Linked DNA regions of Homo sapiens. The protein of the gene in region 1 purifies or fractionates together with the protein of each later gene. This does not show direct contact. Each region holds a gene or a part of one and is shown in the gene's direction. Other genes may lie near its edges.

Evidence for each region.
Region 2: the proteins of HAPSTR1 (region 1) and CSE1L purify together in Homo sapiens (affinity purification with mass spectrometry, with the first as the bait; 2 studies listed by BioGRID). This does not show direct contact.
Region 3: the proteins of HAPSTR1 (region 1) and TNPO1 purify together in Homo sapiens (affinity purification with mass spectrometry, with the first as the bait; 2 studies listed by BioGRID). This does not show direct contact.
Region 4: the proteins of HAPSTR1 (region 1) and DNAJA1 purify together in Homo sapiens (affinity purification with mass spectrometry, with the first as the bait; 2 studies listed by BioGRID). This does not show direct contact.

Annotation. Positions count from the first base shown.
Region 1 is NC_000016.10:9,094,525-9,101,934, forward strand, and holds part of HAPSTR1 (HUWE1-associated protein modifying stress responses 1), read left to right. Parts: intron 1-6,400; exon of another isoform or gene 6,401-6,505; intron 6,506-7,410. UniProt on the Homo sapiens protein: Acts as a central player within a network of stress response pathways promoting cellular adaptability. The E3 ligase HUWE1 assists HAPSTR1 in controlling stress signaling and in turn, HUWE1 feeds back to promote the degradation of HAPSTR1.
Region 2 is NC_000020.11:49,042,036-49,049,669, forward strand, and holds the start of CSE1L (exportin-2), read left to right. Parts: upstream 1-4,276; 5' UTR 4,277-4,388; intron 4,389-7,634. UniProt on the Homo sapiens protein: Export receptor for importin-alpha. Mediates importin-alpha re-export from the nucleus to the cytoplasm after import substrates (cargos) have been released into the nucleoplasm.
Region 3 is NC_000005.10:72,819,354-72,826,763, forward strand, and holds part of TNPO1 (transportin-1), read left to right. Parts: intron 1-7,410. UniProt on the Homo sapiens protein: Functions in nuclear protein import as nuclear transport receptor. Serves as receptor for nuclear localization signals (NLS) in cargo substrates.
Region 4 is NC_000009.12:33,028,268-33,035,677, forward strand, and holds part of DNAJA1 (dnaJ homolog subfamily A member 1), read left to right. Parts: intron 1-1,617; coding exon 1,618-1,722; intron 1,723-2,172; coding exon 2,173-2,400; intron 2,401-5,948; coding exon 5,949-6,063; intron 6,064-7,410.

The DNA of each region.
Region 1 (7,410 bases):
CCACCTCCCAGTCCCTGGCAGTCACTGATTTGATTGCTGTTTTTTCTCCTCCATCATGTCCTAAATAGAATGGTGCAGTCCTTGTAGCCTATTGTGTCTGGCTTGTTCCAGTTACTATGATAAGGTTCACCCATCGAGTTCGCATTGCAGGTGTGCATAGTTCAGTGCCTTTTGATTGGCTAGTATTACTCTATGGTGTGGCAGTACCATGGTTTATTCTTTTGCTTTTGTTGGTATTGCTTTGTGCTTGAAGGGGAAGGCAACACATTTTTAGTGTTTTTATGTGCCAGGTTCTTAGCCTAGGCCGTATAAAATGGGATTGTCCTCTGGCTTTGGTCCTGTTGGGTTCTTGTAGAATGTGTCCCTTTAGGACTAACCTAGCAGTTTTCGTTAGTGCTAACTTTTCGTGTAAGAAGATGGGTTCAGCAGTTGAACTCTGAAATAATCCTTAATTTGATTACTTCATTTAAAAATGTTTACAATTTGTTTGTTTTCCTGCTCAGAAAACTTAAGGAGGAACATTAATTTTATTTTTAGAAAACATCACATATGATTCTTGGATTATTGTAAATGCTAGATTGTTAGTCTGAACTAGTTTTATTTTGTACCTTGTTTCTGTACAGTGAAAACACATCCCTTGCCTAATAGAAATGGTAAGTTGTGTCTTGTGGAATTTGATAGTGCAACGTTTTCTTATTTGATTCAAGGAGTGTGTGGATAATACTCTGGATAGCCTCACACTTTTTCTTTTTCAGGGTGTGGTCTTTAGAGAACAGGCATACAGCTGTAGGAATAATTGGTTACCTTAAATAGAACCAATAAAATTAGCAAGGTGGTGTCACAAGTGCATGCAGCAGTAAGTAGTACTAAATTTAAATGATATTGGTTATAGTTCTGATTAAATATTTAAATATAATTTAAGGGGGGAAAAATTTGGTGGATACTTCTAAGTGGGCAGCAGGCAGCATTCCTGTATTTTGTATAATATCTGACAAGGTAAAAATGGCTTATTGTGCAGCCTGGGGACAATTTGGCACTCCTACCAGCTTCTTGATAACTACCAAGAAGTTCATTAGGTGTTTATCTCAATCCTGACCTTCATTAAGAAGGTCAGGATTGAGATTAAAAACCCAGCAGAGGGTCGCTTTTAGTTGTCAGAGGGCTTTTGAAAAGTTGAAAATTGAGTTAATTGGTTTGGTTGGAATGTGGCTAGAAGGATTTGGAAGATAATGTAAATGTAAGTTGAACTTCAGCAAGGACAGAATTCAATAAAATGGAGTGGGTGGTTACCTCTACTGTAAATAGTAGGGTCAGACTTGTCTTCCCCTTTCCAAAAAAGGAAGGAAGCCAAAATACTGACTGCTGGTTTTTGATTTGATAAATGCAAAGAGGATGGTGTTTCTTCAATATTCAGTAGTATCCTTAGATCAGTATATTTTTTGATTCCTGGAACTAAAGAAGGGGAGTAAAAAATCATTTTAATCTGGCTAGGGTTGATGTTTACCCAGTGTCATTGTGAGTTGGAGTCTACTGCCACATTGCCTGAGTTCAGATCTTGGCTCTGTTACTTCTTACCTTTATGGTCCTGGAGACAGTGAAGCCAGGTGTTAATTCACCATTGTGCTCCTTGACTTAATTAACTTAAATAGGGATAACTACCACAGATTCTAGTACAAGCTCTTAGCTTTGTGCCTGGCATAGTGAGTGCTCTGGCATTCATTGTGTTGGTGGTCAAGTTTTAAGTATTTTTTGGATTTTTCTCAATGTGGGCAGTGCTTAAAATGAAGGGAAGTAATAATAGTTTATTTTCTGTCTTTTTAAAAATTTTTTTTGTGTTGAAATAAACTCTGGTGTGTATTTCCTTCTTCATCTTCTTTCCCTAATTGGAGTAAATGTAAGTAGAATTGACAGGTGGGAAAAATAGTCTGATGCCCTTAAGTCCTCACTTTTGATACATCTTGATGCCAAGCCCTCTTTATATGTCTCACTTCAGTGTGGCCATTTTGGACTCGTACACTAAAGGAGAACTGAGCATAACTGTAAATGTGTGGGCCAAGTGGCAGGTGACTTAGAAACAAATGGCCAGAAATCATATTCTACCTGGAGACTGGTGGAGCTGGTTTGTGACTCACTTGGCTGCAAAAAATTATTACTGAGTTTGAGACTTTGTTCAAAATACCTTAGTGTGGATTACAGTGAGAAACCCTAAGCATTAAATTTCTATTTAACTTTTCATGCCTGTAATCCCAGCACTTTGGGAGGCTGAGGCAGGAGGATTGCTTGGGGCAATATAGTGAGATCCCGTGTCTTAAAATTTTTTTTTAATGAAAAAATTGTAGCTTTGTCAGAAGCAGTAGCCTCAGTTATACATAATACTTATTTTTTATAATAGACTGCTTTTTTTGTGTGTAGCTCTTATTTTTTTTCCTTTTTTGGAGACGAAGTCTCGCTCTTGTCCCCCAGGCTGGAGTGCAATGGCGTGATCTCGGCTCACTGCAACCGCCTCCCTGGTTCAAGCGATTCTCCTGCCTCAGCCTCCCCAGTAGCTGGGATTACAGGCGCCTGCCACCACACCAGGCTACTTTTTGTATGTTTAGTAGAGACGGGGTTTCACCATGTTGGCCAGGCTGGTCTTGAACTCCTGACCTCAGGTGATCCGCCCGCCTTGGCCTCCCATAATGGTGGGATTACAGGCGTGAGCCACCGCGCCTGGCTCTTTTTTTTTTTTTTTCTTTTGAGACAGGGTCTCATTCTGTCACCCAGGTGGGAGTGCAGTGGTGCTGTCTCAGCTCACTGTAACCTCCACCTTCCAGGCTCAAGTGATCCTCCCACCTCAGCCACTGAGTAGCTGGGACCACAGGCACCCATCACCATGCCCAGCTAAGTTTTTGTATTTTTGGTAGAGATGAGGTTTTGCCATGTTGCCCAGGCTGGTCTCCTGAGCTCAGGCGATCCACCTGCCTCAGCCTGCCAAAGTGCCGGGATTATAACTGTGAGCCACCATACCCAGCCTGTGTGTAGTTTTTCTGTGAAAGAATATGTTGGTTGCAAGTATGAGAAAACACAAGTTGGGCTGGCTTTAGCTGTATGGCCATGTATTGGCTCCTCTGACTTAAAAGGCCACAGTAGGATTGACTTAATTGAGCAGCCCAGGCTCCCCTGCTCTGTTCTCCCCTGTGTGCACTCGCACACTTTGTTATCAGGCTGGCTTCATTATGTTGGCAGAATGGCTTGTGGCTCACATCTTAGAGCCACTCAGTAAAGCTTAGAAGAGCCTAAAAATGACTTCTGTCATCTCTTGGCCATAACGGGGTCACTTGCTTACCCACAACCATTAATAGGGGTACATAGGGTTATGCACATGAGTTGAGAGCTAAGCCACAACCCCTTGAGCAAATGTGGAGGGAGCTTCTCTCGAAACATGGTTGCTATCTAAACAAAAACCTGGAGTGCTTTTAGGAAGGGGAGGACAAGGATTGGATGCCAGGCAGGCAACAAACAGTGGTTATTAAGATGCTCCCCCAGGGCTGGGGCGGGGGCTCACGCCTGTAATCCTAGCACTTTGGGAGGCTGAGGCGGAAGGATCATTTGAGGTCGGGAGTTTGAGACCAGCCTGACCAACATGGAGAGAAACCGTATCTCTACTAAAAATAAAAGATTAACTGGGCATTGTGGTGCATGCCTGTAATCCCAGCTAACTCGGAAGGCTGAGGCAGAAGAATTGCTTGAACCTGGGAGGCGGAGGTTGTGGTGAGCCGAGATCAGGCCATTGCACTCCAGCCTGGGCAGCAAGAGCGAAAATCCATCACACACACACACAAAATATTATCCCCCTGGTTCCTGGTCCTTTGTTTTGTGTGCTAGGTGAAGATTAAGTAAATACATAAGTAGCTAGGAGGTGTGCTTATTTTTGGATGCCACTTCCTTAGGGAATACGATTGGGAACAGTTTTATTTTGGCTGTGACTTAGATTGTTACATTCCTAAAGAAACAGTACATTTTCTTTACTGGTTGGAGTGCCAGGGCTCACACCTGTAGTCCAGCACTTGAGGCTGAGGGGAGAGGTTCTCTTGAGATCTTGAGGCTAGGAGTTTGAGATCAGGCTGGGCAACATAGTGAGACCCTGCCTCTACCCTTCCTCCCAAAAAAGAATAAAATATTTTTCTGTGTGGTGGACTGGCTAGTGCAAATTTAATTCTTAAGTTTAAAAATCACGTAGTCAGTAGTATTTCTTTAGAAGTGTTGCTTTGATGTAGCATTGTGCTCTTATGGTTTGTAGATTGTCTGCAATTGAGAGATGGCTTCTCATTTGAGGAAGAGAGGTCACAGAGGGAACTCTGTCAATGAACTTTGGACACAAGGCCCTTTGAACTTCAGTTCCTTGTTACAAACTTGCGATACCTGCTCTAATTCACATGAATCAATGTGTATCAAAAAGCTATAAGTAGAGTAATCTGATTAATTTTATGCAGTTATGTAAGAAAGTTATGATTTGGTCTTCAGAATCAATATAATTCTTTGCCCTCTGCCCCCACCCCAGCCCGTTGTGGTGGGAGAATTTGTCTTCTAAAATCTCTTGGATTCAGTTTCCCATGCTTATATAAAAGCATTTAAAGAAAAAAAAGGGAAATATGGGATACCTGCTATGACTGGTGTATGAATCAGTTCATTTTCTTTTTTTTTTCTTTTTTTGAGATGGAGTCTTGCGTGTCACCCAGCCTGGAGTGCCATGGTGCAATCTTGGCTCATTGCAACCTCTGCTTCCCAGGCTCAAGTGACTCTTCTGCCTCAGCCTCCCAAGTAGCTGGGATTAGAGGTGCCTGCCACCATGCCTGGCTAATTTTTATATTTTGAGATGAGGTTTCACCATGTTGGCCACGCTGATCTCGAACTCCTGGCTTCAAGTGATCCACCCACCTTGACCTCCCAAAGTGCTGGGATTACACGGATGAGCCACTGTGCCATGCCCGCCCAGTTCCTTTTTTGAATAAGGAAATGAATGTGTTGTGGTTAAAGGTTAGATTGACATTTCAGTGCTTGTGGAGTTTGCCTAACCTTCAAGTATGTGGCTCTTTTTCACAGTGACTTTGGTTTCTGTAAAATAGTGTTGGACGCAAGACTGGCCACAGCTTCTGTGCTGTTTTTCTGGGATAGGTACCCGAAAGTCCACGCTTCTAGAATTGGGGTGTGCTCAGAGCAGTGTTTGGCTGAGAGCCTTCAAGAGGCCGTGTGTGTGTGTATGAGATTATCCACTGTACACTAGTTTGTCCTGGGATTATGTTAAAATGTAGTCATGCCTAAGATTCTCCAGTAAGCATGCAGGTCTCCTAATTAGCTCAAGTTATGAGAAAGGTTTGTTTTCAGTCAGGTAACTATTTAAAAAGGACTCTATTTTAAATACTTCACCATTTACATGGGACTTTGTATTTTGGGAAATAACTGAGGTTGGGTTTGAGTGGTAAGGCAATTGGACTTGGTTTTCAGAATATATACTGTTAACAGTACAAAACTACATTATGCCCCGGTGGAGCAAAAACATACCTAAAACCTTAAATGTTGTTTCTGCTTTTCTCCTCTAGGACCTTCTAGTCTGTAAGGGTAGTGTTTGCAAAATGCATGACTTCTAGTGTGCTCATAGTGGGTTCTGACATTGAGACTTGGTTATCTCAGAATTTTTGAGGTGAAATAATTGGTCAGTTGCATAATTTTTTAAAAGAGGTTCACAACTTGTTACATAAGTGTCTTACATCTAAGCCAGGCCACTAGTGATTACTGAGTTTTCCCGATGTTCAAATCTGTGATGAAACCATTAGTCCCTTGCAGATCTGACTGTTGGACTTCTTGTGTCTTCAATCAAAACAACCCAAAACTTGGCCAAGCTCTTCACAGGATATTTTTTTTTTTTTTAAACACCTCACGTGGCCCCTTCCTTTTGGCCCTTGAGTTTTGTATCAAGTTTAGCTTCTCTTTTTTTGCTGTCTGGTTTGCCAGGTGTATGTTTACATGCTTACTTCATCTTTTTTTTTTGAGAGAGAGTCTTACTCTTTCGCCCAGGCTGGAGTGAAGTGGCGCATTCTTGGCTCACTGCCACCTCTGCTTCCCAGGTTCAAGTGATTCTCCTGCCTCAGCCTCCCGAGTAGCTGGGATTACAGGTGCCTACCACCCATGCCTGGCTAATTTTTGTATTTTTAGTAGAGGCGGGGTTTTGCCATCTTGGCCAGGCTGGTCTCGAACTCCTGACTTCAGGTGATCCACCCACCTTGGCCTCCCAAAGTGCTAGGATTACAGGCATGAGCCACCATGCCTGGCCATCTTTCTTTGCACTCTCCAAGCCTGCTTCAGACTTGTTTCTTGTATCCCTTTTACTATGCTTTAGACTTTTTTTCCTCTGTTTCTGCAGGGCTGGGCTTACCTCCATTTGGCTTTTGAAGAATAAAATACCCTCATTCTCTTCAGAAACAGAAACTTCTTCATTTACAAGCTTGATTAAAAGCAATTCTTCTAGGTAGGATAGGTTTAAAAACCTGATTGCTTCTAGGTTAACACATTTTACATTTATCCTTTATGTGGTGTGATAAGTTTAGTTGGTCAATGACTTGATTTCTCTTAATGCCTCCAGCTCTTTCAGAATCATTTAAGTTTTAGGTACAGCACTACAAGGTCATCTTTAGGTTTGTCCACCCCTTTAGGGTTGGCTCATCTAAATCTTTTCCTAAAGAGATGGGAAAAGTGGTGACCCTCTCTACTGTTATTTACATTCAAAATGGAGTTCATGCTTTGTTTATGAAGAAGTGAGAAATCAAAATTATTGATTCATGTTATACCAGTAGTGAGACACTGGAGAAGTTACTTCACTCTTGAGCTGCTTTTTATATTTGTAAAATTAGAATAATCCACCTTCTCAGAGTTGTGATGGAGAAGATATGAATGCACTCTATAGCATATCAGGTTTCCAAATTGATGTTGAATTCTTGTCCTGGTCCTTTTCATTTTAAAGTATTTTTTCTTTCTTTTTAACATCCCAGGTCCTACTTTGATTATTTTTTTAAGAGAAAAGATCTGTGGACAATATCCTTGTTTTTCTTTGTCTTTAGCAATAAAGACTGTCATCTGCTTAAGAGTAGGCCTTATTATAAAGTTCTGGTTGTTGTGCTTCCCTCTTGCCATTTTCTTTAATAGTGCAAATTCAGCTTGGCATCCTCTGTGATGTCTGGATGATTTTTTTTTTTTTTTTCTGGAACATAGCTTTACATTGTTTGACTATTGCCCATCCTTTGAGAGTCTGCTGTAGATGTAGCAGACAAGAAATTAAAGCCGCCGGTTGCAGTGGCTCACGCCTGTAATCCCCAGCACTTTGGGAGGCTGAGGCAGGCGGATCACAAGGTCAGGAGTTGAAGACCAGCCTGACCA
Region 2 (7,634 bases), on another chromosome or scaffold:
TTAAACAGAAATAAGCCAGGTGCAGTGGCTCACGCCTGTAATCCCAGCATTTTGGGAGGCCAAGGTGGGCAGATCACCTGAGGTCAGGTCAAGACCAGCCTGGCCAACATGGTGAAACCATCTCTACTAAAAATACAAAAATTAGCTGAGTGTGGTAGTGGGCGCCTGTAGTCCCAGCTACTTGGGAGGCTGAGGCAGGAGAATTGCTTGAACCTGGGAGGCGGAGGTTGTAGTAAGCCAAAATCGCGCCACTGTACTGTACAGCCTGGGCAACAGAGTGAGATTCCATCTCAAAAAAAAAAAAAAAAATTAAAGTGCCTCCATTTTAAAAAAGATAAGAAACAACAATCAGATACTTCTCAATGTTTAGCTGTTAACACTCTTCTGCATCTCAGTTGGGCTTTAAAAGCGAGATTGAGACATAAGACTTGTTCTTTCCCAGCATAACCAGATGTGTCCACGCCCTTCTGGATCCAAATAAAATGTAAAGTTATCTTCCTCAAGGAGCACACCATAGACAATGTGTCTTTTCAGAATGTCTTTCCTTACATTAGACAGATTGGGGTTTTTTTTGTTTTTGCGCGGGGGGACAGAATCTTGCTTTGTCGCCCAGGCTGGAGTGCAGTGGTGCGACCTCAGCTCACTGCAACCTCTACCTCCCAGGTTCAAGTGATTCTCCTGCCTCAGCCTCCCAAGTAGCTGGGATTACAGGCACCCACCACCACACCCGGCTAATTTTTGTATTTTTAGTAGAGATGGGGTTTCACAATGTTGGCCAGACTGGTCTCGAACTCCTGACCTCGGGTGACCCATCCTGTCCTCCCAAAGTGTTGGGATTACAGGCGTGAGCCACCATGCCCAACCTAGACAGATTGTTTTATAAGGGTTTAGAAAGAAAGGAAACTACATGAATGAGTACTTAGTCTCCTGCTCCTTGAAGTGGATGAATTGTTTTCTTTGGTTTCCAACACAGTCTGTTAAGAGTTGTAGCACGCCCCAAGAGTATGTGCATGTAGTGGAGCTGGGATGGGGAGGATTCCCAAGGGAATCTTTAGCTGTCACCCATGAACCATGCAGAGTGGAGAAGGACACTCAGCCTTTCTGTGGCTCTCACCTGCATGATTATTCTGGTGGCTGCAAAGGGCGATAGGCAGTAGGAGGAGACACCCCGTGACACCAAGAGCTGTGTCCAGACATGATCGTCTTGGCACAGCTTGAGGGTTTTCTACAGAAACTGGTAGAGATGCTAGACAGACACAAGATGCCAGCCAGCCTCCTTTGCGATTGGCTCTTAGAGGTGGAAAATGGTAAAGTCATCAGGCTCATTCTCCCTAGGACTAGAGGAACATGTTAATTATATTAAAGTAGATTAGTGGGCCGGGTGTGGTGGCTCACGCTTGTAATCCCAGCACTTTGGGAGGCCGAGGCGGGCGGATCATGAGGTCAGGAGATCAAGACCATCCTGGCTAACACGGTGAAACCCTGTCTCTACTAAGAATACAAAAAATTAGCTGGGCATGGTGGCGGGCGCCTGTAGTCCCAGCTGCTCGGGAGGCTGAGGCAGGAAAATGGCGTGAACCCAGGAGGTGGAGTTTGCAGTGAGCCGAGATCGCACCACTGCACTCCAGCTTGGGCAACAGTGTGAGACTCCGTCTCAAAAAAAAAAAAAAATGCAGATTAGAACGATTAAAATGATTACTGGTGATTACTGGTACTATTGCTGCAATAGTAAAAATACATCTTTTTCACCAATGTCTTTGTTTTTTTTTAAAATGTTCCACCGTCTTCTGACCATCATGGTTTATTTTTATTTTTATTTTATTTATTTATTTATTTTTTTAAGACACAGTCTCGCTGTCACCCAGGCTGGAGTGCAGTGGCTCGATCTCGGCTCACTGCAGCCTCTGCCTCCCAGGTTCAAGCGATTCTCCTGCCTCAGCCTCCTGAGTAGCTGGGACTACAGGCGCATGCCACCACATCTGGCTAATTTTTGTATTTTTGTAGAGACAGGGTTTTACCATGTTGGCCAGGATGGTCTCGATCTCCTGACCTCATGATCCGCCTGCCTCAGCCTTCCAAAGTGCTGGGATTACAGGCATGAGCCACCGTGCCCGGCCTCACCAATGTCTTTCACTCATGTATCTTTCTCCATGGACTTCACTTATTTATATATGGCATTTCATTCAACATGCAACAAACATTTATTAAGCAGCTACTGTGTGCCTAGTGCTGGGGGTACAGCTGTGAATACCATCAATATGGGGCTAGATGTGGTGGCTCACACCTGTAATCCCGGGGCTTTTTTTTTTTTTGAGATGGAGTTTCGCTCTTGTTGCCCAGGCTGGAGTGCAATGGCAAGATCTCAGCTCACCGCAACCTCTGCCTCCCGGGTTCAAACGACTCTCCTGCCTCAGCCTCCCAAGTAGCTGGGATTGCAGACGTGCGCCACCACACCCGGCTAATTTTGTATTTTTAGTAGAGACGGGGTTTCTCCATGTTGGTCAGGTCTCAAACTCCCAATCTCAGGTGATCTGCCTGCCTCGGTCTCCCAAATCACTGGGATTACCGGCGTGAGCCACCATGCCCAGCCCTATCCCAGTGCTTTAGGAGGCGGAGGTGGGAGGATCACTTGAGGCCAGGAGTTTGCCTGGGCAACATAGTGAGAGCTCATCTCTACAAAAAAATTCAAAATTAGCCAGGTGTGGTGGCAGGTGCCTGTAGTCCTAGCTACTCAGGAGGCTGAGGTGGGAGGATTGCTTTAGCCTAGGAGGTCGAGGTTGCAATGAGCTATGATTGTGCCATTGCACTGCAGCCTGGGTGACAGAGCAAGACCCTGCCTCTTAAAAGAAAAAAAAAAAAAAAAAAAAAGCCCTGGCCAGGCGTGGTGGCTCATGCCTGTAATCCCAGCACTTTGGGAGGCCAAGGCTGGCGGATCACAAGGTCAGGAGTTCAAGATCAGCCTGGCCAATATGGTGAAACCCCGTGTCTACTAAAAATACAAAAATCAGCGGGGCATGGTGGCGGGCACCTGTAGTCCCAGTAACTTGGGGGGCTGAGTCAGGAAAATTGCTTGAACCTGGGAGGCAGAGGTTGCAGTGAGCTGTGACAGCACCACTGCACTCCAGCCCTCCAGCCTGGGCGACAGAGCAAGACTCTGTCTTTAAAAAAAAAAAAAAAAAAGAAAAGCCCTTGCTGTATAGAATCCCTTAGGTTATGGATGGGGAGGAGGGCAGGGGTTTAGGAGGGGAGAAGCGGAAGGAGGAACAAAATAAAGAAGAGACAATTAGTTGGAGAGTGATAAATACCATAATGATATCATGGAACTAGGCTTACCAGATCAAACACTGGGCACCCAGTTCAATGTGAATTTCAGATAAGCAATGCATGATTTTTAAGTATAAATATGTCCTACACAGTATTTATACTAGAAAATTATAAATTTTTTTCTAAAATTTACATTGACCTGGGCAGCCTGCATTTTATTTGCTAAACCTGGCAACCCTAATTTGTGTGCTGGGTGGTGGTGAGTGGGCAATTTCAGATAGGCCTCTTTTGTGGAGGTGACATTTGAGCTGGAACCTAAATGTAAAGAAGGAGCCAATCATTCAGGAATCTAGAACATCCCAGCACAGGGAACAGCAAGTATAAATGCTCTAAAGTGGAAATAAGCTTGGAGCTTAGAGGAACAGGAAGAAGGTGGGGTGGCGGAGCTGAGTGAGGGTGAGGAGAGGAGGGAAGCGGAAGGTGATGAGGGCAGGCAGGCTGGCAGGGGCCAGATCCCATATGGTTTGTGGGCTGTAATAAGAGTACCAAAACTTACATACCAGGCCAGGCGCGGTGGCTCACGCCTGGAATCCCAGCATTTTGGGAGGCCAAGGTGTGCGGATCACTTGAGGCCAGGAGTTCGAGACCTGTCTGGCCGTGTCTCCCTCTAAAATAGAAGCTCCAAGAGGGGCAGGAAGTTCTCTTCCGTCTTAGACCCTATGTGCACGACCTTGGATCGATCAACATTGAACACCTCCTACGTGCCAAGCCCTGACATCAAAATGGGTCAGAAGCCAGCAGCCGCTCGCTGAATCTGTGTTCCTCTTTGGAAAACGAGAACCGTGAAGCCTGCTGGCATGGTCAGAGCCAAAGAGCATTGTCACTTGTGAGATCAGCGCAGAAACAGAGCGGGGCCCCGATTGGCCCTTCGAACTTGGGTGGGGCCAGAGCATTCCTGGCCCCGCCCCCTGCAGCGGGCCGCTCGCTCATGCGCTCTGGCCTCAGGCTCGCTGTCGCGCCATTTTGCCGGGGTTTGAATGTGAGGCGGAGCGGCGGCAGGAGCGGGTAGTGCCAGCTACGGTCCGCGGCTGGGGTTCCCTCCTCCGTTTCTGTATCCCCACGAGGTGAGGCGCGGGGCGTGCACGGCCTACCAGAGTGGCTCTTGGGGCCCAGCTGAGGAAGGGATGAGGCGCTCCCGGTACTAACGAGCGCTAGGGAGTGAGAACCGCGCCTCTGGGCGAGAGCGGAATGTGGGCCCGGGGTTCGGGTGGTGCGCTCAGGCAAGGTCTTCGGCTTCCCTAGGGAGCGCTTGCCGCGCCTCGCGGCATCCTAGGTCTCTGGCCCAGGTGCGGCGACCCCAGGGCCTGTGAGGGCTGAGGGCAACTGAGGCGCGGCCTAACGCGAGCCTGCGGATTGCCCGCCCTTTCCTCTCCATCACGGCGCTGATTGGCTGCGCCGCCGCCTCTCCGCTCGGGAAGGCCGCTCCTTATTGGTCGCGCTCGCATGTCCATTCTCTGCGACGGTGGCTGCTAGCCGCGCGAGCTGAGTGTGCGGCGGCGAGGCCTGCCCGGGCGGGGACTGCGGGCGCGTGGAGCTGCGGCTGCCTCGCGTCGTCCCTTGCCCTAACTCTAGTGAAGCCCCCGAACTCACCCTTCTCTAACCTCTGTACTTGTATCCCTGACTGTAAAACGGGCATCGTGATCTCACTTTGCTGAATTGTTTGTGAGAATTCTAGTCGGTACACCCGGGACATAGAAATCCCCTGTAACGCGGGTTGGGGGAGGGTTCCCTCGTTTTGGGAGAAACGCTGTGCTGTGGTGGTTCGGAGCATAGACTTTGGAATTAGATCGCCTGGGTTCATTCCAGACGTAGCCTCTCGTTAGGGGTGTAACTTGAGGCTGGTCACCTCATCTCACTGAGCCTCCATTTCCTTAGCTGCAAAATGGGGTTAATAACAGAATCTACCTCGGAAAGTGGCTTTGAGGATGCGCTGAGTTATTTACCGTGGTTTACAAAGGTTCCCTGGGAGCTGACGGTTGTTTATTCATCTCTCCCACCCATCTTTCTCCTTAGCCAGTGTGGCTTTCTGTTTCTTCCATATTCCAGGGTTATTCCGATTTAAAATTATTTGCACATGCCTTTTGTTTGCTGGGGAAGTACCAACATTTTTGCAAGGCAGGCCGCCTCTCCCAAGTTTCCCTCACCTTAGGCCTCCCCTAACCAACCTCTTCTTTTGTTTTCTTTTTCTTTTTCTTTTCTCTTTTCTTTTTTTTTTTTTTTTTTTTTTTTTTTTGAGAGAGAGAGTCTCGCTCTGCCTCCCAGGCTGGAGTGCAGTGGCGCGATCTCGACTCACTGCAACCTCCGCCTCCCGGATTCAAGCGATTCTCCTGCCTCAGCCTCCCGAATAGCTGAGACTACAGGTCTGAGACTACACGCCACCACACCCGGCTAATTTTTGTATTTTTATTAGAGACGGGGTTTCACCATGTTGATCAGGCTGTCTAATCAACCTGTCTAGGACCTTTCTCCCATGGCTCTCCATCAACATCACCTGGTTTTAGTTACTTCATAGCATTTACTAACACTTACTTATTGCTTACTTGTTATCTTTCTCAACTGCTAGAATGTAAGCTGTTTGAGAGCAAGGACCTTGTCTGTCTTGCTTACTTCTCTCTCCCTGGTGGGTGCCATCCCACCTGTGCTTGCCACATGGTAGATGCACAAGTATTATTCTTCCTTGGAGGCACAGAAGGGGACCCTTTAGTCTTGGATTCCACCAATTGCTCTTTTTCTCACCTTGGGCCCACATAGTCATATCTTTGGCCTTTCTCTGTGTGTGTCTCTCTCTTTTTTTTTTTTTTTTTTGACATGCTTTCAGAGGATCCTAATGGACCTCGTCTCTCCGCTCCTACAACCCTTTATCTTTCACTTCTTACCATCAGTGCAAGGGAAGTCTCTCTCCCCTTCTGATTACTTCTGCTGGTTGGGGTCTGGGACAGGATTGGATGGATGCAAGAGCAGTGCTCTAGTTTTGGAATTAATTTGTTTCTTTATTCATTTAATAACTTTATTGAGCATCCACTTAATCTCTGGGAATATAGTGAAAAAACAAAAATGGACAAGGTCCCTTCCCTTGAGGACCATGTATTCTCGTGGGCGAAAGAAAAAACATTAGATAATTTCAGATAGTGACAGAATTATGTGACAGGTGAAGAAGGCTTTTCTGAGGAGGTGACATTTGGGTAGAGACCAGCCATTAAAAGGTGAGGGGCAGAACATTCCAGGTAGAGGGAATAGAAGGCTCAAGGCTCAAGGACAGGAACCGGCTTGGAATATTGAAATATTTAAGGAATATCTTAGGTTCCTAGAGTGTTACATGAAGAAGGGAGAAATATCCAGGACCCGGATCATAGAAGGCTTTGTAGGCAATGTAAGGAGTTTGGATTTGATTCTAAGTGGTATATTCCTATGGTTAGAAAGCAGAGGGTAGGTTGAGGTGTTGGGATATGTTCTTCATGTGTGGGTGCCAGATAGTTTTCATTCATTGGATCTCTTTCCCTCTTCCCAAATGTAAGGCCTCGGGAATGGTTCTCTAATGTGTTGAGGACATATCTAAGAAAAAGGCAGACATCTTGGATCAGCTTATGTCACAGATGTCTGTGAGATGGCTTTGGAAAACAAAGCTTTTATTCCAGAAATCTCCACCTGTAATTGAGGGCCTGTGGGAAGATGCTAGACTTAGGTCTGGCCATTCATTCAACAAGAAGAACTTGGAAATTTAGATGTCTGCCATAACTGATTTATTGTGATGCTTTTTTAAGTTTCTTAATTGTGTATTGGTAGAGATTTCCAAAGATAGTTACGTGGAGAAAGAAAAGTATCACCCCCTCATTTAAAGGTGATAAAAATGAATTCTTATCTTCTCCCTCCCTTTTTTTTTTGGAGACACCATCTCACTGTGTTGCCTGGGCTGACCTGGGCTCAGTCTATCCTCCTACCTCAGCCTCCCGAGTAGCTAGGACTACAGGCGTGCACCACCACACTCAACTAATTTTTATTTTTTTTTTGTAGAGATGGCACCATGTTGCCCAGGTTGGTCTCAAACTCCTGGACTCAACCAATCTGCTTACCTTGGCCCCCCAAAGAGCTGGGATTACAGGCATGAGCCACCCTACTTGGCCAAAATGAATGTTTTGTTTCTAGTTTGAGTCATTTTTAGATCAGTAACACTTTTTGCATTTATATATTGCTAATATTTCAGAGTGTCAAAGTACCTTTACTTGTGGTTGCATAAGATAATTAGAGCTTGATCTTGTTGATAATTATGAATACCTGTAAAATGTTCTCTAAAAGTCCCTGATTTCTCTTAT
Region 3 (7,410 bases), on another chromosome or scaffold:
ATTTGTAGTTGTATGCGTGGATGTTAGTTAGGAGAGGTTTTCAAAAGCAAGTTTGATTGGGTTGCTTTGAAGGGTCCTTTGAAGTACTGTAAGTTGCTGTAGTAAGTAGGAATATTAGAGTTCTAGAGTCTGAATGGTCAAATGAGATATTGAAATGGGAAATAGGGAGGTGGATTTGTCCTGGAATTTTCTGGAGTAGATAGAATACATATAGGAATAGTGGCTACATCTTAATCCAAAAAGACACTCCATGCCAGAGCGAATATTACAACTCAGTACTGAAAAAAAGCTGATAACCGTGAGACCATAAAGTTGGGATTGATATATGCCTTTTTAATGGTTAAATTTTTAAAACAAAGCAAAACTTTTCAATGTAGTGTAGAGAACAGGCGCTTTGGAGCCACACTATTTGGATTCAGATTTTGGCACCTTCTGTAATTATCTGTGTGACCTTGGGCAAGTTATTTAATCTCACTTTTTCATCTTATGTTATGAGGATTAAATGAGTTAATACACTAAGCTCTTAAAACTGGGCCTGACATGTATTAACTTTTCTATAAATAATAACTGCTGTTATCATCAATGTCATTATCACTGTTAATTATTTCAGAAAACTATAGAAAACCATAAAATAAAAATTACAAATATCAGTACTACGTAGTAACTACTGTAAGCCCTTTTGCGCATTTCCTTCCAATGTTTTTTTCTGAGTTTATTGGATTTTTTTCACAGTTGAGACTTTACTATGTGAGTAATTTTGTATTCTCACCATAAGCATTTTCTTATGCTACTTAATTATTTTGTCACCATATTTAATGTTTGCATGTTTGTGTGGATTTCTCATTATTAAACAGTTTCTAATTTTTTTGCAGTTATAAGAAACACTGCAATGAACATCCTCATACAAAAATCAATTTCTGCATTCTGGATTATTTAGAGTCCCCAAAGCAAAAATACTGAGTCAAAGTAAACATCCAAAGCTCATGGTCCATACTGCAAATTGCTTTTACTTAAGGGAATTTAATAATGAACTTATTAATATAATAAATTGAGACTACACAGTATTGTTCCTGTTGCTTTGGGATTGGAGGAATAGAGAGTGGATTAACGTTTTCCTTGTAATGTACTAGACATCATTTGTAGGCATTTAACATACATTGTCACTTTCATGTACATTTTTCTCATTTATTATGTTGGCTCTGTGTTATACATGGAAGTTACTTCTATTTTACTGATGAGAAAACAAAGTGTAAATAGGTAAGTACTTTGTCCAAGGGCTCAGAGCGTTCGAGCCTGAATCTGAATCTAGATCTGCTTGACTGCAAAGCTCATCATGCTGTTTTATTTGTATACTTTTATATCATATACATATTCAGAATTTTATACTATAACTAACTATAGATCACAGACCACATTTTTAAGATAGCTAAACTGAGCTGGGAATAATGAATGGGTAAGTTGCAAAGTTAAACAAGACAGGGCTTAACTTTCCACATTTTAGAAAAAGAAAATCTTTACCTGGATGAGATATAATTGGTAACAACTATATAAAACCGGGTTCTAAAGTGAATGCACCAAATATCTGTGGGTGCAATTCTTAATGATCTTAACACAAATAGGTGAGAGAAAACCAAAGAAATCTCAAATTTGATTAAATTTGGGGAATAAGAGAAATGAAAAGGCCCGTAAGTGCTAAAATTGAAATATACGTTTAGTAAAACTCCTGGTAAAGTAAATGAAGGTTTTACTGGGGAAACAAGCAAAAAAATATGTGTTTCACATAAGGAGAATAGAACTGCCTACAAGGTGTAGGAAGTTAAATTTATACTGAAAATTAGAGAAAAATTCATATTTGAGTTGCATTTTATAGATGACTCCGAAGCCATTAGTAAAATAATTTATTAGTGGAGCCCCTTTATCCTAGATGCATATGTTTCTACCACAAATGAAAAAGTTAATGCTAGGAAGGATAAGATTCCACCACTTTTGTTTTTACTAAGAAAGGAATTAAGGAAGAGAAGTATTTCAGCAAATCATGAATATACTAAATAAATGCAAATAAATTATTAGGAATAGGTGGTATCCAACAAGATTTTAAAGATAAGAATATAAAAGTACAGAACTATTGATTATTATGCTACCATTTGAAATTGTGTTTTTGAAAAATATTTAATGAAATTAAATATATATTTTGACTGGAGCATAGCAGAACTAGGAAATGATGAGAGAGCTAGCAAACCATGAAGGACTTTTGTGCCATTTATTAGTGCTGGGATTATCTCTTGTCGAGAGATTTACATACTAGTGGAGAAAGAGATATGTAAATAAACAAGTTCAATAAGTGTATTTACAGCTTTTGTGATATAAATCTGTAAAAACACCAAGAAAGGCCAGTAATAGATTCGTTGAATAGATTAGGGGGAATGTCTGGAGCATTTTGGGAACTAGGAACAGCATTTCAGTGAGTGTGTCAGTAAACATAAAGATCTGCTGTGTTCTTGGAACTCTTAAGCGGTTCAGGGGCCCTGAAAGGTATATAGCAGGGGTCCACAAACTTTCTGTAAAGGGCCAGGTAGCAAATATTTTCTGCTTTGTGGGCCATACCATCTCTACCACTGTAGTGCAAAAACAGTTATGAAACCAATGGTATGGCCAGATTTGACTAAGGTCTTAATTAGACAAACTCTAATATATAGTAGAGAGGGATGTTGAAGAGAGAGAACCTACTGAGCCTTATGTCACCCTATCATGAGCCATTGAAAGATATGAAACGAATCTAGAAGATTGATTTGTATGAATCATTAAGAGCAGAATAAAATAGATTTTTAAAGCACTCTACATCGATTTAAAAGGGAAAACAACTCAGTTTTTTAAGTGGGCAAGTTCCACAGAAGAGGAAATATGGCTAGCAGGTAAACATGGAATAATGATTTACCTCACCAGCAGAAAAATGCAAAGTAAAGCAGTGACTTTTTTTTTTTTCTCATTATACTGGCCAAAGAGAAAAAAGTTTTGTTAGTATGTATTGAGAAGGTTGTAGGGATAACATTGAATATATCGGTACGGCTATTTTAAAGTAAAAATATCTTTGACCCAGCAGTTTCCATTTCTTAGAGAAACACGTGAGTATATCAGGAGTCATGTGTGCTAGGATTAGTCCTTGTTAGTAACCACAGAAACTCCAGACTTCCTGTTCACATTTTGTCTCTGGCATTCCATTCATAAAAAGTTCTACACTTTTTTTTTTTTTTTTTTTGGAGATGGAGTCTCGCTCTGTTGCCCAGGCTGGAGTGCAGTGGCATGATTTCGGCTCACTGCAACCTCTGCCTCCTGGGTTCAAGCAATTCTCCTGCCTCAGCCTCCCGAGTAGCTGGTACTACAGGCACACATCGCCATGCCCAGCTGATTTTTTGTATTTTAGTAGAGATGGGGTTTCACTGTGCTGTGCAGGCGTGTCTCCAACTTCTGACCTCAGGCAATCCGCCCACCTTGGCTTCCCAAAGTGCTGGGATTACAGGTGTGAGCCACTGCGCCCGGCCTGGCCTGGGTCTACACTTTTTTTTTTTTTTTTTTTTTTTTGGAGACACAGTCTAGCTCTCTTGTCCAGGCTGGAGTGGGGTCTATGCTTTTTCTTAAACCTCTTCTCAACTTTTCATACCCTTCTACTGTACTTTGTGAAATTAACTATCCATCATCTGCAAAATCCAGTCTGAACCATTCTTAGATGTTGCTTTCACTTTCTTGCTGTAATGGAAACCGGACTCTCTTCCACTGTGCAGTTGTGGCTGTTTTTGTTTGTTTGCTCCGTAACTTTCCTCCCACTGTTTCTAGAGGTGGGAAAGATATCTGTCATGAGTCTTCTTACTTCTTTCAGACTATGCTTCCTCCTTTCTCCCTATAATCTTCAGTTTTGAATTATGTCATAAAGGCCCACTGTCCCACTCTCCAGTCTTTATATTGAAATTGATAAGAATGTACATAACTGATCCACCCAAACCCTGGCCTCTCACTTCCTAGACCTCTCTTCCAGTGCTCTTCCCATCTATGCTATATCAGCCACTCATTCCACAGTGATACCCTCGTGCACTGTCAATAACTGCAGTCCCTCCATAGTTGCCATTTCATGTGTTCTGCTCTGTTACCGCTTCTTCCTATTTTTGCAGCTCACTCCTAGTGCCTCAGCCCTAACCATCTTCTGACCCCAATGGAATCTCCAACCCATTGATCCTATTACTGCTCCCCTGCCCCTTACCCTCTTGATGTTTTCACTCCCTTTTATGTGGAATTTACTCATCTAAATTTCATGATTAATCAGTTTAATTACTTCTTTGGATCCCTTTCCTTGCTCTTTGCTTGTTTGGCAAAACCAGAGCTCTAGTTAAAACAAACTCTGGGGTTTTTTTTGCACTTGCCCCTATGTAACTGAGCATGGCCAGAAAAAAAACCACACAACCACACATGGCCACAAACCTTAAGTGGGTCTGTAATGCTGCCTGATGGTTGTACTGTATTTTCCTAGTCTGCTTACTCTTCCACTCCTCTAAATGACTATTTCATATCTTATTTTCCCCAAACCTTCTATATCTCTTTTCCCATCCTCACCTTCAGCTCATGACCTTGCTTCCCACTTTGCTGAGAAAATTGAAGTAATCAGAACTTCCATAGATTGCCACCACTCCACATACCTCTGGCACTCTATTTATGAAAGGGTCTGCGCAGCATCTGCTCAGTACATGGCTGTCTTCCTGCCTGTTACCTTAGATTAACTGTTCATATTCTTGTCTGCCTTTGTACTAGGCCCCATTCTCTCTCATCTGCTCAAGGACTTTGCTTCAGGTTCTCTTCTTCCACATCATCAATTTTGTTCTTTTTATTGAATCATTTCTATCAGCAAACAGATATGCTATTATTTCTCCCCTCTTAGGAAAAAATCTTGTCCCACTTCACCACATTACCCCAATTTTTTGTTTCCTTTGGGAGCAGTATTTCTCAAAATAGTTGTCTGTACTTGCTATTGCCAAGTTCTCTCCTCTAGTACTCTGTTAAACCCACTCTAGTGAGGTCTTTGTCTGCACCACTCCCACAGAAACAGCTCCTCTGGTTCTTCAGTAGCCCCCATATTGTTAAATGCCCTGTGTTATTGATTCTCATCCTATGTGACCTGTCAGCAGCATTTGACACAGCTGTTTGCTTCCCTTAGCCTTGAAACCATTTCTTCTTTGCCTTCGAGGACGTCACACGTTCCTGGTTATCTGCTGTCTCAGTGCTGGTCCTTGTAATTCTCCTTTTCCTTTATTTTCACTGACCTCTTAATGTTGGAGAGCCCCAAGTCTTAATTGTTTGTTTATTTGTTTCTATCTATGCTCACTTTATTGGTAATCTCATTTAGTCTCATGGCTTGAAATACCATGTAAATATCAACAATACCCAAATTTAGATCTTTAGCCCCCTCCTCAATTCCAGTCTTACATGTGCAACTACCTATTCAACATCTCCCCTAAATGTTTAATAATAGACATCAAAGTCAGCATATCCAAAACTAAACTCCTAAACTTTCTCCCCAATGCCTGCTTTACCCACAGACTCTCCCATTTCTGTCAGTGGCAACTCCGTCCTCCTGTAGCTCAGACCAAAATCTTGGCCTTATTTTTTTACTTCACTTTTTCTTTTACTCTTCAGATCTGTTCTTTCAGGACAATCTGTTTTCTGTATCGTCAAAATACATCGAAAATCCTATCATGCCTCACTGCTTCCTCCACTGCCACCACCCTTGTCCAAGCCACTACCATCACATCTTGTTGGATTACTGAAATAGGTTACTACCTGGTCTGCCCCTTCTGCCCTATCCCCTTCCAACAGTATTTTCTCAATACAGTAGCCAGAATAAACCTTTCGCAAATTAAGACAGTCCCTGTCACTTCTCCTGCAATGGCTCCTGTTACGATCTGAATGTATGTGTCCTCCCAAACTGTTGAAATCCTAACTCCCAAGGTATTAGGAAATGGGAGTGGAGTCCTCATGAATAGGATTGGTGCCCTTAAAAAGTCCTAGAGGCCAGGTGCGGTGGCTTATGTCCGTAATCCCAGCACTTTGGGAGGCTGAGGTGGGCGGATCATGAGGTCAGGAGATCGAGACCATCCTGGCTAAAACCGTGAAACCCTGTCTCTACTAAAAATACAAAAAATTAGCCGGGCGTGGTGGCACGTGCCTGTAGTCCCAGCTACTCGGGAGGCTGAGGCAGGAGAATCGCTTGAACCCAGGAGGCGGAAGTTGCAGTGAGCTGAGGTCACGCCACTGCACTCCAGCCTGGGTGACAGGGTGAGACTCTGTCTCAAAACAAAACAAAACTCTAGAGAGATCCCTTGCCCTTTGTCTCTTGAGGACACAGCAAGAAGTCTGTGAGCTAGAAAGCAGCCCTCACCAGATACTGAATATGCCTTGCTCTTGGACTTCCCATCCTACAGAATGGTAAGCAATCAATTTCTGTCATTTATAAGCTATCTCATTTATGGTATTTTGTTATAGCAACCCGAATGGACTAAGACATTCCCTTTCATTCACTCAGAGAAAAGCTGGTCCTGTGAGGCTCTACATGATCTGCCCAATCCACTCCACTTTCTCCTTACCTTCCTGACCTCATTTACTGTTACCACTGTTCTCCCCTTACTCACTGGCCTGCTTGCTATGTCTGTCCTGTTCCTACTTTAGGACTCTTGCTGGCTCCACTCTCTGAAATGTACTTCTTCCACATATCTGCTTGGCTCAATGGACTTACCTCCCAGTCTTTGCTCAGATCTTACCATCTATGAATACCCTGTTTAATACTATATTCTATCCTGCCCTTCCCCACCCACTCTTATCCTGGACTCCTTTTTATTTTTTGCATAGCACATACAACCTTCTAACATACTATATTAGGGGTCAGCAAGCCACAGCTCCATGAGCTTCTGCCCTGTTTTTGTACATCCTATAAGCAAAAGAATGGTTTTTACATTTTTAAACGGTTATGAAACAAAGCAAAAAATACGTGACATATATATGTGGCCTGCAAAGCCTAAAATATTTACTCTCTGTCCCTTTTCAAAAAAAGTTTACACTATGTATTTTATTCTGTTTATTGTCCTCCTCCTCCTGCAAGAATACAAGCTCCAAGAGGGCAAGATCTTTGTTTTATTTTTTGCTGTATCTGCAAGATACAGATACAGAGCCTAGAATGTAGTAGACACTTAGTAAGTATTTGTTAAATGAATTGTTCGTGATGGTGCAAAATGGTAATTATGTTAAATGTTCACCAATAGACCTATATATCACAATGAGTAACAAAATCTGTATAATGACTAGGAAAGTTAAGGCGTATTTTGAAGTTTGTTACAGAACAGGCCTAAAACACTTTTTGTTTCTACAGATACC
Region 4 (7,410 bases), on another chromosome or scaffold:
TTCAGCTTTATTGTGTCAAAATTATGTATTTAATATGTTTATCAGGAAAGTGGCCTATGGGCTCTAGAAATACTGCTTATAGGAGTAAAATGTTCAAGAGAAATCAGTCTCACTTTATTTCCAGTATAGTGTATACAAATAAGGGCTGATGAGCAGAACCAGTTTTAGAATGAATGGCCAAGCCATTAAATTTCACTTTGAGCTTCTTAAGGTTCAGAAAGATTTGGGAAATTGTTTATTCAGTTTTTCTTTAAAGATCTTCAAGGAAAGGATTATGTTTTTATTAAGATACTTAAACTCCTTAAAAAGAAAGTCCACAATCCAAATGACTTGCTTAGTAAATTGTTAGAATTTGTCCACAAAAAAGTAGTGGTGGTTTTTCACTTACCTTACAAAGAACCTGCAGGTTAACATTGGCAAGCTCTTTTATGTGGCTTATGATCATATTGAGAGGTTATTTCTGGGGAAATGCGCTTCATCAAGCTCTAGAAGCTTTATTTTTCCTTCCTTATACTCAACACTGTTCAAAATAAGGGCAGCTAGATTTTAGCGTGCCAAAACTAAAGGTGGAACTATAAGCAGAAGGACATAATTAATGGTATTTCATGCTTGATTAGAAAGTTAAAATGTTCATTAGGCATATTGTACAGAAACGAGTTTGAGAACTTTTTTCAGTTGGTGGAAAGGCAATAATATTGTTGTGAATAAGTCCTTGTGGAAGGACCACTAGTTAGGAACTTACTAACTTACTAGCAGGTGACTTCATACTTCTAACCTCAGTGTCCTTATGAGATCTTGACCTTCCATTTCCTATTCTGATTTAAGTGAAGTAAGGCACTCCTTAGTAGCCACTGGCCATGTGTGGCTCCATTAATTTAAGACAAAAACAAAAATACGGTTTCTTAGTCTAAATGGCCACATTTACATGCTCAATAAGCACATGTGATTGGTGGCTGCTACGTTGGACAGAACAGATATAAAACATTTATCACTGCAGAAAGTTCTGTTGGGCAATGCTATTATAAAAGGTATGAGAAATTTGGCCTTCAAAACAACCAGTGCTGGCCCAGCAGTAAATGGGCTGTTTTCTACTAAATCAGGAAGAAGTAGAAATTGATACTCTTCTGTGGTGACTCAATAAATACATCAGCTTCCCTGGCCAATCTTGATTAATGAGAATTTACTGTGCTACAGAATTTTTGGATGAAGTAATTGGCCATGTTGCTCAATACGGTACGAAGTGAAAGCTTCAAAAAATATATTGTGACAGAAATGAATGTTTGGATTATTGTGAAATGTGCCCTTTTAAATAACATTGGTTTTTCTCAAGTGACTTTGAAGGTAATGCTTTTGCTTACCATATTTCCAAGATGGCCACGTCTGTGCCCTTAAGCAAATATTTAATCTCTGACCTGATTTTCCCTCATCTGTGATTACATCACAGTTTGAGGATCATCTGTGATAACGTGAACATTCTGTGTATATAGTAGGTAGTCAACAGATGTACCCTGTGAGGCTCATCTTTTATTATTCTTTGCCACATTCTTTATAGTGCCTTTAGCACAAATAAGATCCAGCATCTTAAACAGATTTGCAATGAGAAATATTTTGTTTTAGGTAAAAATGTTGTACATCAGCTCTCAGTAACCCTAGAAGACTTATATAATGGTGCAACAAGAAAACTGGCTCTGCAAAAGAATGTGATTTGTGACAAATGTGAAGGTACGGTGTTTTTTTGTTTTGTTTTGTTTTGTTTTTAAGCACCTTTAATATGACACCTGAAAATGGAGCTAAGACTTCTAGATAGATATGTAAAATTGATTCATGTACACTACCTAGATTTTGGGGGAGGAGAGGGCAGATATGAAGAAAACCAACTGAAAACCTCCCACCTAAAGAAATATCAGCACTTTTTTCTGTGTATATTTTAAATACAGTTGGGATCAAGCTAGTTTGGTATCTTTTTTGTAATAAGTAAAATTTATTGGAAAGTGTGTTCTAATAAGAATGAAACTCATTGGAATGATCTCATCAGTTGTACATTCAGAGGGTAGCATTCCATCAGGCTTCGAAAATATTAAAAGTATAGCATTTAGGAATTGTCTTCTTAAAACATTTACTACTGTATACACTACTAATTCATACATTATTTAATTTTCTTTTTAAATTTAGGTAGAGGAGGTAAGAAAGGAGCAGTAGAGTGCTGTCCCAATTGCCGAGGTACTGGAATGCAAATAAGAATTCATCAGATAGGACCTGGAATGGTTCAGCAAATTCAGTCTGTGTGCATGGAGTGCCAGGGCCATGGGGAGCGGATCAGTCCTAAAGATAGATGTAAAAGCTGCAACGGAAGGAAGATAGTTCGAGAGAAGAAAATTTTAGAAGTTCATATTGACAAAGGTGAGTTCTGAGTTACTTATTCTGAAGTCTTGAATGCTGTGGCAGATTTATTATTAACATTTTATAATTGTTTAAAAATCATTCTTAATTAGGTTATATATGATCCTATCAATCAGAAATAACTCTTAGCAGCTTAGTAAATAATGTTCTTTTATCCAGACATAATTTTGCACATTGGTATATTACTAATACAGAATATATTAGGAATCTCCTCATTTAATATAACAGGATCATCTTTTGAAATCTGTGGTCCTGTAAATGATTGAATAGTGTTCCAAACTTAATTCTCTCCTGTTAAACCATAGTTCTTCCATCTTTTAAAACATTAGAATTGTACACATTCTTAATTAGGAGTTACTAGATCAAGGGATAGGCATACTTTTAAGGATTTGAAAGGGGAGTTAGGTGAAGAATTGGGTCTCATAAAAATTCATGGTTTTTTTGGAGACGGAGTTTCGCTCTTGTTTCCCAGGCTGGAGTGTGCAATGGCACGATCTCAGCTCATTGCAACCTCTGCCTCCCGGGTTCAAGCAGTTCTTCTGCCTCAGCCTCCCAAGTACCTGGGATTACAGGCACCCAGCACCATGCCCGGCTAATGTTTTGTATTTTTAGTAGAGACGGGGTTTCACCATGTTGGCCAGGCTGATCTCGAACACTTGACCTCAGGTGATGACCTGCCTCGGCCTCCCAAAGTGCTGGGATTACAGGCATGAGCTACCGCACCCCGCCTCATGTTTATTTTTTAAACCAATGGGCATGTTTTTGTTTGTTTGTTTTTTTCTGAGGTAGAGTCTTGCTCTGTTGCCCAGGCTTGAGTGCAGTGATGCGATCTTGGCTCACTCTAACCTCTGCCTCCTGGGTTCAAGCGATTCTCCTGCCCCAGCTTCCCAGGTAGCTGGGACTACAGGTGTGCACCACCACACCTGGCTAATTTTTTTTGTATTTTTAGTAGAGATGGGGTTTCACCATGTTAGGCTGGTCTCAAACTCTTGACCTCAAATGATCTGCCTGCCTTGGCCTCCTAAAATGCTGGGATTACAGGTGTGTGCCACCATACCTGGCCTGGGCTAGTTTAAATAAGCGTATTGGCCCACTTAATTGGCTTACTTGCCCATCTATTATATTTAAATGCTCCGTTAATTGATTTGATAGACTACCTTTCATTTTTTTAGACTTGACACTTCCCTAACCCATTGGGCTCCAGATTTAGAAATAACTATATAACCTTTTTTTTGTATTCTCGGGATTTGATTGATTTGTCAATTTTTAAATTTTACTCTTGTCAACTTGCAAAAACATTTTAAAATGTATTACAGCAATACACTGCAGAAATTTTAAGAAATGTATATAACCCCAGAAGGAAACTTAAGTCAACATTATGGTAATCTCTTTTCAGATTTTGCTGTTTATAAATGGGTCTACTATTATACTGTACTGTGGTATGATACCAATCTGGAACTGTTAATATTTGAACATATTTCCATATTAATATACAAATCTACATTAACATAAGTGGCTGCAATAGGATTCTATCATGTGACTCATGATACTGGCCTCTCTGACCCCCAGGGTTCCACCCAAGAATGTAGTACATTGAAAGGTAAAAATAAGTTTCCTTGGCCAGTTGTTGAACTTAATAAATCTGTGTTTACCCCTTAGTGGGCCCATGCCTAAGGTTTATACTTTGAGGTGTTCTTGATACCAATAGCATACAGAGTAAGTCTTAACGTTGTTGATAGGTTCTTGGAAACTGGGACTTCTAGCAGAATGACCTCAAATAATGTCATGCAGGTCCTCAAATAATGTCATGTCACTGTAACACAGCTGAGGGGAAAAAAATTGGTCTTGTTATGTGTCATTTCATTTAAAGCAATTTCCAAGAACCTATCAACAATGGACTGTAAGTGAGAACTTGAAATTAATGCCCTAACTATATAGCAAGTGAAGGCATTTGTGCTGTGCCTACTCTTACTCTGTATTCAGGAAAACCTAGCTGAGTTTAATTGCTTCCCTAGCATAACAAGTTATTTTGCCTCAATACACGATTAAAGACAGATTGTTTAATTTTGTCAGTGTATGATACTGATAGCGCTTTAAGTCCTTATTTAAGAGGTACGTACTGAAGTATTTGTGGGTTAATGGATATAGTTGGAGTTTGCTTGAAAGTATATGTGGGGGGCATGCGTAGGGGTGTAATACATGAAATATTAGTCATGAGTTAGTAACTGCTGAAGCCAAATTGGATGGATATGTAGGAATTCATTGTACTGTTGGCTCTGTTTATACAGGATTAATATTTTCCATACGTAAAGGTGAAACATGATTGCTCTGTTAGGTAACCAGAGTGATCTTGGGAAATAATCAGGAGATAACTGCTTTGGTGTAATACTCTACAAACACAGGTTTTCTTACATGAGTTATGTTCTAAGAGACGTTGCCCAAACCCTTACTGAACTAAAATATGTGGGTCAGAGGTGAGGGGCACGAAGTCTCAGTTTAAAAAAAAAAAAAAAGGCGTGTTTTTTTGCCCTGTTAGAAAATACTCCTCCCCTTGTATTTTACGGACCACATGGGCTAAGGGAGTGTCTAGCACTGATTGTTTTGTTTGCTTGTTTAATTTAAATGAGACAAGGTCTGGAACTCCTGTGCTCCAGGGTGCTATCCTCAGGGTATCCTCCTGACTCGGCCTCTCAAAGTATAATTACCCTTTTTTTAAGGGGACTATACTGAATAGTTCTTTAAAATACGGATTTTCAGGCACAGGGGCTCAGGTCTGTAATCCGAACACTATAGGATGCCGAGGCAGGATCCCTTGAGCCCAGTAGTTCAAGACCAGCCTGAGCGACATGAGAACCCCCATCTCTATTAAAAAAAAAAAAATTCAAAAATTAGCTGGTCTGTGGTCCTGGCTACTCGGGAGGCTGAGGTGGGAGGATCACTTGAGCCCAGGAGATGGAGGCTGCAGTGAGCCATGTTTGTGCCACTGCACTCCAGCCTAGGCAACAGAGCAAGATCCTATCTCAAGAGAAGATTATAGATTTAAAATTTTTTTAGTTTTATATATAAATACTACAATAGAAGGGTCTTGATTTACATTGCTGTTAGACTTTTAATAGAAGTAATTTGATGTGTTATAAGTAATGAAACTGAAATACTTAATTAACATTTTTTGGTTATAACCAGTGTTAGCCAGTCATGGTTTAGTACCAGCATATACCTGTTGAGTTAATACTCTAAATATTGCTAATGAGGTGTAGGTGTCTGTGGGAAAGTTGAAACTTGGAAAGGATATGCAGCTTACTTCCCCAGGGTAATCCAGCCAGTGAATAGCAGCTCTGAGATTTGAAGGCTAGTCTCTTTGCCTCTGGAGTTTGTGTTCTCCACTATGATACCTTTCTTCAGGAGCAAATTGGACTGAACTACTTAAGTGGGCTTTCTTAGTCATTTCTGTGATTTTTATGCATAAACAAACATCTATGTATAGATTTTATGATTCTGACCTTAGTTGGATATTTAATAAAAGTACAAAATTAATGTTTTGTTTTTAGGCATGAAAGATGGCCAGAAGATAACATTCCATGGTGAAGGAGACCAAGAACCAGGACTGGAGCCAGGCGATATTATCATTGTGTTAGATCAGAAGGACCATGCTGTTTTTACTCGGTAAAGACTTTTATCAACCACTCAAATTGATATCACATATTTGGGTTGTTGGTTTTGTTTTTTGTTTTTTTGTTTTTTTTAAAGTGTTTTCCATTACTCTTAGAACCTATTTCTCAGGAAGATTGTTAACCATTGTTCAGATCATAAGAGGTTGAATACATAGGATCAGATTTTTAGCTTTTTGTCTCTAAGTATGGAACGTTGAAAATGTGTTTCAATTAGATGTTTTGTGTGAACCTAAGCAGCAGATGGGTGGGGAAAACATCCCTGGACAAAAATTTGCCCTCAATCTTTGTAAAGCAATTTAAGTGCCTTAAAGCTCTCACCAGTTTTCAATCTCATTTATGATAAATTGAATTGCTTTTAATTATAAATATCCAAAAGCATCTCTGTAGGAAACTTAAATTGTAACTCAATACTAAGTATAAATTCAGGTCTACCATTTTGAGCTAAATAATGAGTATGATGAACACTGAAGCACAAGAAAGATGGATGATTAACAGCAAATGTTTGTGATCCATGGCTAACATAACACCCTCTGTGCATGCTATATTCCCAGCAACTTGGGAGGCTGAGGTGGGAGGATCACTTGAGGCCAGGAGTCCTAGCTACTGGGGAGGCTGAGGCAGAAGAGTGGCTTGAACTCAGGAGTTCAAGGTTATGATCATGCCACTGCATTCTAGCCTGGGTGACAGTAAGAACCCACCTTTTTTTTTTTTTTTTTTTAATGGAGTGGAGGTGAAATTGGGAACATCTTAAACTAGTTTAGGATTAATTAATATTTCAGCTTGGTTTGGTGGCTTACGCCTGTAATCCCAACACTTTAGGAGGCCGAGGTGGATGGTCAGGAGTTCAAGACCAGCCTAGCCAACATGGTGAAATGCCATCTCTGTTAAAAATTAAAAAATTAGCCAGGCATGGTGGCAGGCCCTGAGGCAGGAGAATCACTTGAACACAGGAGGCAGAGGTCGCGGTGAGTTGAGATGGCGCCATTGCACTCCAGCCTGGGCAAAAAGAGCAAAACTTGGTCTCAAAAAAAAAGACTAATATTTTACAAATGTCTGAAGATAATGGGAAATGTTGTCAAGCTCAGGCTTTTGATGCTGTCATTTGAGAAGGGTATTAAAGATGTTTTATTTATTTATTTATTTTTTTTGAGATGCAGTTTCGCTCAACAGGCCCAGGCTGGATTGCGATGGTGAGATCTTGGCTCACTGCAACCTCCAACTCCCAGGTTCAAGCAATTCTCTCACCTCAGCCTCCCGAGTAGCTGGGATTACAGGCGCCCACCACCACGCCCAGCTGATTTTTGTATTTTTAGTAGAGACGGGTTTCACCATGTTGGCC